Linked DNA regions of Homo sapiens. The protein of the gene in region 4 purifies or fractionates together with the protein of the main gene of each other region. This does not show direct contact. Each region holds a gene or a part of one and is shown on either strand. Other genes may lie near its edges.

Region 1 (3,500 bases), on a different chromosome or scaffold from region 4:
ACAACATTTTAGAGGTCATGAGACTTGACTCCAAAGTCCTAGAGGTCTTTGGTCAAAGGTCAAAAGAGGCTGGGCATGGTGGCTCACACCTATAATCCCTGCACTTTGGGAGGCCCAGGCGGGTGGATCACTTGAGACCAGCCTGGCCAACATGGTGAAACCCCTTCTCTGCTAAAAATACAAAAATTAGCCAGGCATGGTGGCAGGCACCTGTAATCCCAGCTACTCGGGAGGCTGAGGCACGAGAATTGCTTGAACCTGGGAGCTGGAAGTTGCAGTGAGCTAAGATCGCGCCATTGCACTCCAGCCTGAGCAATAGAGCAAGACTCCATCTCAAAAAAAAAAAAAAAAAGATCAAAAAGAGGCGTACACACCAGAAGGAGTGCCCAGGGTAAGACTGGGAATTCCGACCCCAAAAGTGGACCCCTGCCAGGTCCCTCAGAGTTCCCACCACGGCGAAAGCTACTTCTTGAGCAGAGCCCACCAATCCCAGGAAGTCAAAGGGCAAAGGCCCTCCTGGATGAGGGGGTGTGTGCACAGCTGACTGTGCCTGGGTCTGTCACTGCCTCCCCAGCCACCCTAATCTTACTGCTCAGTTCTCCACCCAGCAGTAAGCTCACTCTCTCTAGATTGGAAATGAGGTGTTGCTCCCCAGCAAGCACACGTGAAAAACTTCCAAATGGGGCCAAAGTATGTTGCACAAGGTCCTGAAAAGCAGAAAGAACACCCGGAAGAGGTACATGAAGACCAAATGCCAAAACGGACTTTTAGTAACTAACCATCCCAAAGAGTGGGCAGAAGACAGACCGACCCAAAGCGGGATAGGGACCCACATGTGTGCCCAAACCAACAAGTTCTTGTGCAATGTTAATGATTCCTCTGGAGACAAGGGAAGGAAGTGACCCCACTTCCGTTTCTACATTCCTCCTCAGCATGACGCCACAGCTATGAGAGATGTTTTCTCAGCATGGAAGCCATATGTCCAGGGCTTAAAGACAGTACAGCTCTGAGAAAGGAAACTGCAAAGAAAATGCTACTCTCACTCTTCCAAAGCAGCAAAGGAGAGTGCGCTGAAATGAGGCTTGCCATGGCCTGGCAGATCAGACTGTTCGAGAAAGAGGGGATGTGGCAGGCACAAGAGGAAAGCCATCCAAAAGGAATAGAAAAGGGATCAGGGGTCAGGCACGGTGGCTCATGCCTGTAATCCCAGCACTTTGGGAGGCCGAGGCAGGCAGCTCACCTGAGGTCAGGAGTTCAAGACCAGTCTAGCCAACATGGTGAAACCCCGTCTCTATGAAAAATACAAAAAATTAGCTGGGTGTGGTGGCGCATGCCTGTAGTCCCAGCTACTCCAGAGGCCAAGGCAGGAGAATCACTTGAACCTGGGAGGTAGAATTTGCAGTGAGCCAAGATCTCGCCACTGTACTCCAGCCTGGGTGACAGAGCGAAGTCTCTCTCTTTAAAAAAAAAAAAAAAAAAAAAAAAAAAGGGATCAAGGATGGGGCATGATATAGCACTACCTATGACAGGTTTTGTAATCAGGCAGAGCTGGGTTCAAATTGTGACTACATTATTTCTGGGCTGCTTAAACTTAAGCAAGTTATTTCATCACAGAACCTTGGTTTCTTCATGTGTACAACAAACAAGACACCTACTGGAGAGAGAAACTGTCTCAAATTATCTTTTTTCTCTACTCTCACACCATAATCATCAACACAAGAGACTTCTGTGACCAAATGTGAGGGGGTTTCTTCCCCACACACCAACCAGCGGACAGCAGCTGGGTATCCTCTCATTCAGTTCCCATGCTGTCTACCTGGAGAGAGTGTCAGATCCCACAGGTTGAGGGCTCAGTCCCCAGGACTGCCCCGCCTCTCCACCACCACCCCTCAAACATACCAGTTGCAAGTCTGGGCCTCCAGAATTTCTCACCGACTGGCTTCAGGCTGGGGTTCCCATGACCCCCTCTTTGAGTTCAATTAATTTGATGGAGCAGCCTACCTAGCCCAGGGAAACACTTACTTACGTTTACCAGGTTATTATGAGGGATATCGCAAAGGATACAGATAAGGAGACGCTTAGGGCGAGGTATGGGGGAAGAGGCGTGTAGTTTCTGTGCCCTCCCTGAGCAGGCCTCTCTCTAGGAACCTCCGTGTGTTCAGCTATCCACAAGCTCCCTGAACTCTGTCCTCTTGGATTTTTATGGAAGCTTCATGACATCAGCATTCCTTCCCCCAGGATACAGGGTCCACCCCTCTCAGGGGAGGGTTTTAAGGCCCACAATCAGGTGGGGAAAGATTAGGGTGGAAGGAGAGCAGAAGGTCAGAGGCCTGCCCCTGAGGCCTAACACATCTAACATTATATCAAAAAACCATAACAAGGGCTGTGGATAGGAGTTATGAGCCTGGATCCGTGGATGAAAACCAATATCCTAATACCACAATACCATCTAAACTGTGAGAAGACTAAAGTTGATGACGCAAGCAACATGCTTCACTACAGTAAGAGCTAAAGGCAGCTTTACATGTTATAAAACAATAACAACAAACTCTACCAGCAAGATCACAAGACTCTCTCCATGAACACCCAGCCTTCAGGGAGGGCAGAGGCAACTCCGCCAACTCACACCACACACACCACTCCCTTACCCGCTATCACGGAGATCAAATAAACAGGTCAGCTGGGGAAGGATCAGCGATACCCCACTCCAGAAGTGACTTGCTGCAGGAAGCAAGTTCCCTGCCATCAGAAGCAGGTGCTTTTAAGTTCTGGTCAATGTTTGCAAGCCCAGGAGATATAAAACCAAAAGCATTAGTGCTCACTAACTGCAAGACTCGACAGCGTGTACACCAGTAGAAGCTTGGGAGCTCCAGGTTACAAGGTCTGCTGGGAGTTCAGCCGGTCCAGGAGCCTCCCTGCTCTCACTAATACCCAGCCTGCAGCTGCATCCAAACCCCTGGCGTAAAACCTACTGTCAACCCCTCCAAACTCTGCCTGATTTATCTGGCTCTGCTAACTTGCAAGCTGAGATTCCACATCTGTGTTGCATGAGCTGCTTTCTGCCTGGAATCCTCCTTCCTTTTCCACCCATTTGGCATACTCCTACTGTCCTTCTAGACCCAACTCAAGTGTCACCCGCTCCATGAAGCCTCCTCTGATGCCTCATAGAGAACAAACAACATCACAGACTTCTGGTTTTTATCACATCCTGTGTTCCCCAATTATCTCAAGGCTTTGACTGCTGACTCCCTACTCCTCCAGGGTGATGCAGGGCAGCTGGGTTCCTCCTCTGCCTCTGGAAAGCCTTGATAATCTCTGCTTCACCACAGACCTTGCCACAGGCACGTGGGGACCATCCTGCAAGCATAGCCTGAGAGCCCAGCTCCAACATCAGTGACACACTAAGCGTCACACTTCAAGCTGTGACTGCCTCATAAGTGCTCTGGAGATTACTGTTTTGGATAGTTTCTGGCAGCACTTCCCAAAGCGTGGTCCACAGA
Region 2 (3,500 bases), on a different chromosome or scaffold from region 4:
TGAACCTGGGAGGCGGAGGTTGCAGTGAGCCGAGACTGCGCCATTGCACTCCAGCCTGGGTAACAGACTGAGATTCTGTCTCAAAAAAACAAAACAGGCTGGGCACGGTGGTTCACACTCGTAATCCCAGCACTTTGGGAGGCCGAGACAGGTGGATCACTTGAGGTCACAAGTTCAAGACCAGCCTGGCCAACATGGGGAAACCCCATCGCTACTAAAAATACAAAAATTAGCCAGGTGTGATTGTGTGTGCCTGTAAGCCCAGCTACTCCGGAGGCTGAGGCAGGAGAATCATTTGAACCCAGGAGGAGGAGGTTGCAGTGAGCCGAGATCGCATCATTGCACTCCAGCCTGGGTGACAGAGCGAGACTCCCTCTCAAAACAAAAACAATAGAACTTGAGGATACGTGGTAACAAAGAACAATGAGAAAAAAACAAAACCTGTACATCTGACTGGAAGAAAAAAATATTTGGGAAACAGGGGACACCAGACAAAACTCTCTCACGAGCTGAGGACTTCCATCTCTGTGTCCTTGAGGGCTAGATCACAGTGAGGGTTCAGGGCCTCCAGTGGTACAGGGATGGTTCAGCCACTACCCTAATCCCTCTTCCCAGGGCCTGCTGGGCTCCCAGCCCTGAAAGCATAAACCCTGAGGTACAATTCCAGAACCCCTGGGGGTCTGTAAGGTGTATCCAGCTATGTTCCCAGTATCTAGCTTAGGTGTTGGCAGTCTTTATTGGGAAGCATCAATAGTCATGGAGAAAGAGCCCTGGAGAGCACTCATCTGATACTACCAGAGAAGCACACCTTAGAGCCTCAGAAGGGAGTTCCCAAAGAGCGTCCCCTCCCTCTTCCCAGTAACGGCATCAGCCAGACTGGGAGCAGTGGGATGGGAGGTCCCTTCTCTAGGTCTCCTGTGCCTGGTCCAAGGACAGGGCCCAGAGCAGACCTCAGGTACAGAAACTGAGGAACGGGGCCCCCAATCTCTGCTCTGGGTGGGAACAGAGGAACAGAATGTAGGGAAAGTGGATTTCCCTACATTCTATTCTGCTCTAAGACTCAGATGGGGTCCCAGGGCCTATAGCCCTTAGCCTGCTACCTGGGATGCCAGCCATAAAGTCTCACCCCTTGCCCCGGCCTCACTCACCTAAAGGCCTTATAGATGGGTCGGTACCAACAAAGGAAGGCACAGGGAGTGAAGATCAGAAACCACAGGATGGAGAGGCCAAAGTCCACTCCCTTGGAGCTGTTGCCCGAGAACCAGGCCAGGCAGGCAAGCAGGTTCAGAAACAGAGTCACTGAATGCACTGGGGAAGGGGACAGGACAGAGTTATGACTTGTGCCACAGTGGCTGAGGGGCTCCAATGTGGCAGCCACTCCCTAGGAGAGGTGAGGTTCATGCTGCGAAGGCAGCTGCTGAAACAGAGGAGCCCGCTCTGTACCTAGGCAGGGATAGTTCCCATATCCTGGTTTTCTGGGACCTCAAAACCAGGGATCAAACTACGTTCCTGAGAGGTGATGGGACAGCCCGGGTATCTGAGGGGTGTGGAGGGAGGATGCAGACCCAGGGCTGGTCCTTGGGGAAGGAAGTCTTTCTCTTAGCAATGCTTTTCCCTGGCCCTGGATGGCCCCTGATGGAGCTGCAGGGGGAGTCTCCTTCCTCACCCCTCAGAGTTCACAGGCCTGTGGGCAGGGAAGGCCTTCACCTAAGGAGGGCCTTTTAGTGCAGTGAGCTCTGAAGGAACTTGGAAGCCTCTAGTTAGTCCCACCCTCCCTGATCGGTGGTCTGGACTGCCCCTTTCAAGGAGGTTTCCAGACAGGGGGCAGCCTGTGGGCAGAGGCATCTCCCCAACCCAGCCCAGGCACTGAGGAAGGCTGGAGTCTGCTGAAAGCCTGTATACCAGGGAGGAGCAGCCAGGACCAAGATGGGGCTCTCAAGTCACACCCAATTCGCCCTTGCGCTTGGAAGGCAGGAGTGGGACTCACACATCCACAGATAGTAGAGCATCTTGCATATCCGCTGGTAGTCGGCAGGGATCTCTGTGGAGAAATCCTGATAGAAGCAGGGCTTCACAGGGCACCACGAGGGCAGAGGGGGCCAGTTGTTCTGTCTCACTGGGTAGGGCAAAAAGAGTGACGAGGTAAGGGCCCAGCCTCAGAAGGGGCATCAAGGTGCATGCACGCCAGCATAGTGTATGGGCCAAACCAGGGTTCCCAGAGGGGCTCCAGCAAGCGGGGCTTGGAGTCTGCATGGAGCATGGAGTGGGACAGAACAGGATAATGGAACCCAAAGAGATACCAACAAGCTCACATGGAGATAAAAGACCCCAAATGCACTGGGAAATACAGACAGCTAAATGGCCTAAGTGATTATTTTTATTAACAAGCAGCCCATAAGTGTGAGAACTCAGTTCATCATCATTAGCAAGGAATTGTGGGACCAAAGCCCCTATGCTATCAAAGAATCAAGGAATTTGAGAGCTAGGAAGGAGTGCAGAAGTAATCTACAGCCATTACAACTACACTGCAGGTCTCCTGACTTGCAACTTACTGCTCTTCCCAGGACCAGCATCCTGTGATGAGAAGAGCCCCACAAAACTCTAAGGCAGCTCAGGGTGAATGCTGGGAGGCCCTCCGCACAGGTTTCAGGACACTCTTCTATGCCAGGCAGGGCAGCCCCAGGCCCCAGCAGCCTCCCTTACCATGCAAGTTGGCTACAGTGTTCTGCAGCTCCCGCTCCTTGCGTTCCAGCTCGGCAGCTTTCCTGTCCAGTTCTTCCTGCTGCCGGAGCAGGCCTGCCTGGGCTGCAGACACCACGGCCTGGAGAGAACAGGGGAGGTACAGGGACAGCCAGACACAACAAACAGAAACAGTGTCAGCCTGGGTAGGCAGGCAGAGAGGCCTTGCCCCAGGCAGGGACAGCCATCAAGGAGTCCCAGAAGCAGTCCCCGCCCCACAGAGTGTCTTAGGTACCAGAGACCACCTTAGAGAGGCCAACCTGTCTTCCACTGCCCCCACACCTTCCTGACCCCTTGGCCATGACTAAGCTGTCCTCTCCCCTCATCCCTAAGCTTGAGTTGGGAAAACTACCCCCATTGGCTTCTCCACCTCTTCCCCATACTGGGTCAAGGCAGCGCTCAGTGATTGTGACCTTTGGGAAAAAGACCTCACAAGAAACTAAACTATAATAAGAAACCCACAGACCCAAGCCTCATTTGAAGAGCCTGGTGGATGTGTGAGAAGGAAAACAGTGCAAGCCTGCTAACAGTGAGTGGAAAGGGGAGACACGTGAAGGCAGATGGCGTGTGCCTGAGCCTCAGGATCTGTACAAGCACCCTGCCCCATGGCCTGCCCCCAGGAGCTGCCTCCTGAGGTCCCCCTAAACTGCAATTGGCTACACCCCAGGACAGCCCCTTAGGTGTGGCCCTGCCCTGCCTGGCTTTAGTGGCATGCAGAGTCCACACTTATCTCCTCTCCAGGCGGGGTAGAGCCTCTGAGT
Region 3 (3,500 bases), on a different chromosome or scaffold from region 4:
TAATGTGATTCGATAACATCACTCCAATAAAGCATAAGTGAGTTTCTTACCTTAGATTTAAAAGGCATGATGAAAGAAGGCACCAATAAAATAAGGCATTTTAAGCCCATGAAAAAGAATTTCAGAATGAAGTCTGTAATTCCAACAATCCAAAATACTTCCCAGAAGCTCAAATGGTCCAAAGTAGGATTTAAAAAAATTAAGCTACCAAAAGAAAAACATCAAAATTTATCAGAGCAACATACAAAGATAAAGTATTAATAAAGGGTTTTAATTTGCTACAAATATTTTATTTTGATATGTAAAAAATATGAGTTTGGCAGGATGTCAGAGTTCACAATAATGGAATGGAGGATCATTTTGCTTAAAGAGACTTTTTAAACCTGTTTGGATTTTAGATCTTCCCTTCATAGAATAAGGAAAAAGTCTTCACGGTTTGTCATAGTTGACACCTTTCTAGCCTGTAAATGAAAAAAACTCATCAATACCAGACATCTGCTGTGTTTTTCTTAACCAATTCCAATCAGGATTCCATCTCTTCCTTTCAATGAATTGCTTGTCAAGATCATCAACTCCCTCTGTATGGCTAAATTTCAAGGTCACTCTCTTTTTCCATCTTCCCTCCCTGAATAATTTTCTTTCTAGACTTTTAACACAACACTTTTCTATTTCTCATATTTCACTGCTGGTTTCTTCTTAGTCTCCTTTGCTGTTTCTCTTCTAATTGTGGTCATGTCCAGTACTGGGCTCTCTATCTACACTCTCTTTCCTGGGTTAGTTTTGTCCAGTCCTGTGGTTTTTAAATATCAACCATATGCTCCTGATACCAAAATTTATTGCCTTAACCTCTACCCTGAGTTCATGACATATATTTGGAACCACTTTCTTATCAATTCTACTTAGCCTCTCAAACTTAACATGTTCAAAACAAAATTATTGATTTTTCTCCTCAAAATCAGTTCCTTCCTCAACCCAATGAAATGACACCACCATCCAGCCAGCTGCTTAGACTAAAAACCCAGAGGTCATTCTTGCTTCTCTCCACCCACCTATCCAATCCAGTCCATCTGAGGGATACTGGCTCCACCTCCAAACTATATCCCAGATTTGCCCATCTCTCCAACTCCAGTGAAACCAGGTCTTCTAATATTCTAATAAAAGCTGAAAATTCAGAATACTCCCATTTGACATGGAGACTTATCAGCTACTGTCATTTAGTAAGTGTTCTTACTTTCAGAAACAACGACCAATAATAACAACCTAATGGTACTTTAAAAATACGAAATATGTAAACAAAAACTCAGGTATCAAAAAATTAAATATTTATTGAGCATCTGTTATGTGCCAAGGCACTGGGGATACAAAATCTGAGTAAGTCACTTAAAGCTCTCACTTATGAGGCTGGGTGCAGTGGCTCACACCTGTAATCCCAGCACTTTAGGAGGTGGAGGCAGGCAGATCACGAGGTCAGGAGGTCTGACCAACATGGTGAAACTCCGTCTCTATTAAAAATACAAAAATTTGCCAGGCGTGGTGGCGTGTGCCTGTAATCCCAGCTACTCAGGAGGCTTAGACGGGAGAATTGCTTGAACCTGAGAGGCAAAGGTTGCAGTGAGCCAAGATCAAGACACTGCACTCCAGGCTGGGCGAGAGAGTGAGACTCCGTCTCAAAAAGAAAAAAAAAAAAAAAGCTCTCGCTTATGAAAGGAGAAAGTTAAAAACTGAACTGAACTGAATACAATAAGTACTATGTGAAGTAAGATACAAAGTGCTATGAAATATATGATTACATTAAAAATGTAATTGTGTATTTGGACCTCTAATTACCTGTAATAAAGTGACTGAGAATGAAAGGTGTAATATAAAAGAACAGAAGATCCTGCTAAGAATACCAGTAACCAAGCACACTGAATCTTTGAGGACCTTTCCTGAAAGATAAACAATTTTATAATGTTACTTTGATTTTGCCAGAATTTTAAATATCATTAAACTGTTTTACTTTAATGACTATTAACTTAGAATATTTTTCTAAATCTTAATATAGAATATGTTAAACTGTACATAATCATCACAGTTACTGTTTTATACTACTTTAGTGACCAAACAGAACTCTTATATTAAACAAATGTTTAAAATACAAGTTTCTTCACTGTATGAAAAACATTACCTATGTTTCAAAGAAGCCAAGTCTTCTCTCAAAAAAAAAAAAAAAAAAAGAAAATTAAATTAAATTAAAAAAAAAAAAAAGAAGCCAGGTCTTCTACAAGCTGACATAAAGGACCCACCCAGGACGGGGGCAGTGGCTCACACTTGTAATCCCAGCACTTTGGGAGGCCAAGGTCGGCGGATCGCTTGAGGTCAGGAGTTTGTGACCAGCCTGCCCAACATGGTGAAACCTGTCTCTACTAAAAAAAGTACAAAAGTTAGCCAGGCGCCGTGGCACGTGCCTGTAATCCCAGCTACTCAGGAGGCTGAGGCACGAGAATCACTTGAACCCAGGAGGCAGAGGTTGCAGTGAGCCAAGATCACGCCACTGCACTCCAGCCCGGGTGACAGAGCAAAACACCGTCTCAGAAAAAAAATGGACCCACCCACAAAAGAAAATTTCAAAATGCATTTTAACCTTGACTCACTTGTCAAGGTTTATATTTTTTAAATTCTCAGATTATAAGAATTTAATAAATTAATGTTTTAATCTCACTTTTTTAATATATGGGGTCTCGACACATTGCTCAGAATTCCTAGGCTCAAGCATTCTTCCCAACTCAGCCTCCCAAGTAGTTGTAATCTCCCTTTTTTTTTTTTTACTTTTTTGAGACTGGGTCTCACTCTTTCACCCAGACTGGAGTGCAGTGGCATGATCACAACTCACTGCAGCCCCAACCACCTGGGGTCAGGCAATCCTCCCACCTCAGCCTCCCAGATAGCAGAGATTACAGGCACGTGCCACCACGCCCAGCTAATTTTTTGTATTTTTTGTAGAGATGGGGTTTTGCCATGTTGCCCAGGCTCGTCTTCAATTCCTGGGCTCAAGCAATCTGCCCATCTCAGCCTCCCAAAGTGCTGAGATTACAGGCATGAGCCACTGTGCCTTGCCTGTAATCTCACTTTTAAAGTCAAGTTTAATGAAGTTTTACTAATTTTAAATCATTAAGATTTTTCTAGTTTGATAGGTTTAACTATAAATTTCCAGGTCAGAATGCATGATACTTTACACAGACATAGCCATTTAAAGTTGCCTTAAGGTGAAATTTTAGAAACTCATCCTCTTTTTCCCAATGATTTATATGACGGGCTCGTGTAACTTATGTTATGGAAAAATTCCTTGGGTTTCATTTTCTCTCTTTTTTTTTTTGAGATGGAGTCTCACTCTGTCGCCAGGCTGGAGTGCAGTGGCACAATCTTGGCTCACTGCAACCTCTGCCTCCCGGGTTCAAGCAATTCTCCTGCCTCAGCCTCCCAAGTAGCTGGGACTACAGGCAAGCGCCACCACGCCCAGC
Region 4 (3,500 bases):
AGGCATGCATTGCTCTGCTCTTCAACACTTTAACAAAGCACATATAGATCCAGAGAGAAAAGCTAGTGTAATGGGAACATAGGCAGCTCAGTAGAAAATACATCTGCTCTGAAGTTCTCATGAGTAAAAAAGAACAAAACATAATTACAATTTAAAAAAAAAAAAAAAAACCCACAAGAAAACAAATACACCCCCTACTAATGAGTCCAAGAAGAGAACTACAAATACACATCCTCCAGTACTGTTAAGGAAACAGCTCTGCTTCCAGTGACTAGCTGCAAAACAGAAAGTGTCTGTTCACAACTGTCATTCACACCACGGTGACTTTCTCAAAGTCTCCTCTGGGTAATAAACCTCTTTAGGAGTCTGTCAATGCACACCTTAAGCAAGTAGACTGCAACTCTTTTTAACTTGTGTTCCCCAGAATGTGTCCTCCCTTTGTGTGCTGAGCATCATTTAGCTAAGAGGATGCTGTTGCTTTTACTTGTGGTTAACTGTGTTACAACTCTTGTAGATATTTTCATTGTTTTTTTTCTTCAAATTAACCTTCTTGCCATCCCTTTCTGATCTGACCTCGATAGGGGTCATCCCCAAACATCTTCCCTTGAGATACTTGTCTCTTGAAACAGAACTAAAGGCAACGCTGCATCCCCTTAGGAAATCCAGTTCAGTGTGCCATTTTCAGGTGGCCTTGTGCTAGTAAAACAGAGCAAGCCTCTGCTGTCATAAGTCAAAGCTACATAACAGATAAGAAAAGTTGTTAGTAACATATTCTAACTAATGTCTACAAAACACAGTCAATGCCTATGTGTGCAGATATATGATTTGGGATGACAGTACCTTATTTGAGAGGAAAAATACACTGCACAAAGGTAATGTATTGACAGGGTCAACTGTTTTTTTGAAAGGCCTACATTTTTTAATTTTCATCTCTACATAAGGTGATGTTGTGTTTGTGGGACATTCAAAGAGCCACAAGGGAGGTAGCATAACGTAATCATTAAAAGCATGAAATTTGGAGCCAGATTCTTTGGATTTAAATACCAGTTTCATCATCTGCTAGTTGTGAGACCTTGATCAAGTTATTCAAATTCTCTTTCTGTGTTTCCTCATCTGTAAAAATGGGAATAATCATAGCACTTACATAATAGGGTTGTTCTGAGGATTAAATGAGCTATATTTGCAAAGCACTTAGACAGAGATATGTACATATCTGTTAAATAAAATGCTACACAGATTTCAGGAGTCATACAAAGAGCTAAATGCAATATAACTCTTTACACCAGCAGCAAAAGTTTAAAATGGGCTTGTGAGGACACACAGAAACTAAAATGACACATTACTGAACTGGGTATGAGATTTCAAAAGTGTTGTTAAAGATTAAATATATAGTGCTGGACTCTCGTCTTGAACTCCTGGCCTCAAGCAATCCCTCTGCCTCAGCACCCCAAAGTGCTGAGATTACAGATGTGGGCCATCATGCCCCGCCCCCTAAACATATTTAATCTTTCTAACATTGGCACTAAAATATGCCTAAATGTGCTTTACATTCCTGTGTAGTTCCAGACCAAGCCTGGCCTCTGTGTGACCTTGGGAAACACACTCCACCTTTCTCTGTCCCTGAATTGTCATTTTAAAACTAAAGGAACTGGACTACCTGTTTGATCTTTAAGGCCCAACTCTGATAGTCCCAGGAAGGTGGCAGCCCAAGTCTTAAGGAAAATATGAAATAAAAAGAGGAAAAGTAATAGACATTTTTATAGAATTTTAAGCAAAAAAGTTACTGGGTAGGACAGAAAGCAAACCTTCCCCTTTCCTTAAATAGAAGATAAAGTCTGAGTTTGCCTCACAATTCCATTTGTACAAAGGAGCAAGTACAGGACTAGGGCCCTGGCTCACTAGCGCCCACCCTGGAGGGACTGCACCAGGAGGACTTACTCACATATGAGGGTGCAGCACAGCATACACCCTCCAGAGGACTCTTATTTGTGCAATCCCATTAGAAGCAGGGCTGCACCAGACATTAAAGGCCATATATTGTATGATTCCGTCTACATGAAATGCTCAGAATAGGCAAACTCATAGAAACAGAATGCAGATTAGTGGTTTCCAGGGGCTGGGTAGGAGGAATAGGGAGTGATTGGTGATGGTTTCCCTTTGGGGTGATAAAAATGTTTTGGAATTAGACAGTGGTGATGGTTACACAACTCTGAACATACTAGCCACTGAACTGCATACTTTAAAAGTGTACAATTTATAAGTATCTAAATTATATCTTAGCAATGGGGGGAGGTCTATCTTTATAATAAACATTTCCAGTAGTCTGCCTCCTGTTATCAGTAAAAGAGGGAAGTAAGGAGATTAAGGTAATTATGTCAACAGTTCTTGATGAAAGGAAGGCTGGAATTAGATTCCGAATTGCCTATATAAGATGGCCAAAAATTCTAGAAACTAGAAGTCAGAGATGAAAGACCCTGTTCTCAAAGAGCTCAAAGGGAAATTATGCACACGGAAAGAACAACCAGTAGGAAGAGGGGTATACAATAAGGTACTGGTTGCTCCCCAGTGAGCACTGGGCAAGTCTTCAACCATCTACATGCTCCAACGTGCAGCAGACCCTGACCAGGAGCCAGGTGCACCTGAGCTTCACTCACAGACTTCCAAAGGGAGTCCAAAGGGAGAAAAGCTAGGAAGCCAAGTGAGCTTTTCCCAATTTCATCTTTGCATCCTGCAGTCTCTTGACCCAATACTGACACTACTCCCCTTCTTGTGATGGCCCAAGGAGAGGAAACAGCAAGAGAAAGGCTGAAAGGTGAGAAAGGAAGGAAGTAAATTACTGGCAATAGTTTGGCAAGATCGCGAACTCCTTACAGAGGTCACAGCAGCCAAAGTGACCTTAAAATATAAATCGTATCATGTCACCCCCTATTTAAAACCCATCCAAGGCAATCAGAAAATGCAAACTCCCTACCACCATCTGGAATGAAATGCACACTTCTACCACTGACCCTACCTGCTGGCACCTGCACCTCTCTGGTGCCTCCCCCACCACTCTTTGCTCACACAGAGCTAAGCTGTGTGCTGCCTCAGGGCCTGACACACTCTTCTCCCTCTCCCTGGCTCTGCTCTTGGCTGGCCCCTTCTCATTCCTCAGGTCTTCTCTACCAGAACTGTTTATTTACTTTAGAGGGCTTACCACACGGTCACTACTTTGCCTATTTCTTGCCTGGGTAGACTGCTCATTCAACAAGGACAGAGAGTATGACTACCTTATTTCTTGCCATATCTAAAGTGCTACCACAGTGCCACACATGTGACTGGCATTTGATTTTTGCTAAATAGATGAACCTGTATTTTAAAAAATAACTCTGGCTAGGGAGCATAAGAGTTACAAGAGGTATGGAGAATAGTTAAAATGAAGGTGACTGCTATGGTCTGAATGTTGTGTTCCCCCAACATCCATATGTTGGGACCTAATACCCAATGTATTAGTATTAAAT

What was found.
Region 1: the proteins of REEP5 (region 4) and MFN2 purify together in Homo sapiens (affinity purification with mass spectrometry; 2 studies listed by BioGRID and IntAct, with this or other methods). This does not show direct contact.
Region 2: the proteins of REEP5 (region 4) and SCAMP2 purify together in Homo sapiens (affinity purification with mass spectrometry; 2 studies listed by BioGRID and IntAct, with this or other methods). This does not show direct contact.
Region 3: the proteins of REEP5 (region 4) and RNFT1 purify together in Homo sapiens (affinity purification with mass spectrometry; 2 studies listed by BioGRID and IntAct, with this or other methods). This does not show direct contact.

What each region holds. Positions count from the first base shown.
Region 1 is NC_000001.11:11,983,444-11,986,943, reverse strand, and holds part of MFN2 (mitofusin-2), read right to left. Parts: intron 1-3,500. UniProt on the Homo sapiens protein: Mitochondrial outer membrane GTPase that mediates mitochondrial clustering and fusion. Mitochondria are highly dynamic organelles, and their morphology is determined by the equilibrium between mitochondrial fusion and fission events.
Region 2 is NC_000015.10:74,849,366-74,852,865, forward strand, and holds part of SCAMP2 (secretory carrier-associated membrane protein 2), read right to left. Parts: intron 2,822-3,500; coding exon 2,704-2,821; intron 2,117-2,703; coding exon 1,988-2,116; intron 1,309-1,987; coding exon 1,149-1,308; intron 1-1,148. UniProt on the Homo sapiens protein: Functions in post-Golgi recycling pathways. Acts as a recycling carrier to the cell surface.
Region 3 is NC_000017.11:59,958,241-59,961,740, forward strand, and holds part of RNFT1 (E3 ubiquitin-protein ligase RNFT1), read right to left. Parts: intron 1,929-3,500; coding exon 1,828-1,928; intron 205-1,827; coding exon 51-204; intron 1-50. UniProt on the Homo sapiens protein: E3 ubiquitin-protein ligase that acts in the endoplasmic reticulum (ER)-associated degradation (ERAD) pathway, which targets misfolded proteins that accumulate in the endoplasmic reticulum (ER) for ubiquitination and subsequent proteasome-mediated degradation.
Region 4 is NC_000005.10:112,915,728-112,919,227, forward strand, and holds part of REEP5 (receptor expression-enhancing protein 5), read right to left. Parts: intron 1-3,500. UniProt on the Homo sapiens protein: Plays an essential role in heart function and development by regulating the organization and function of the sarcoplasmic reticulum in cardiomyocytes.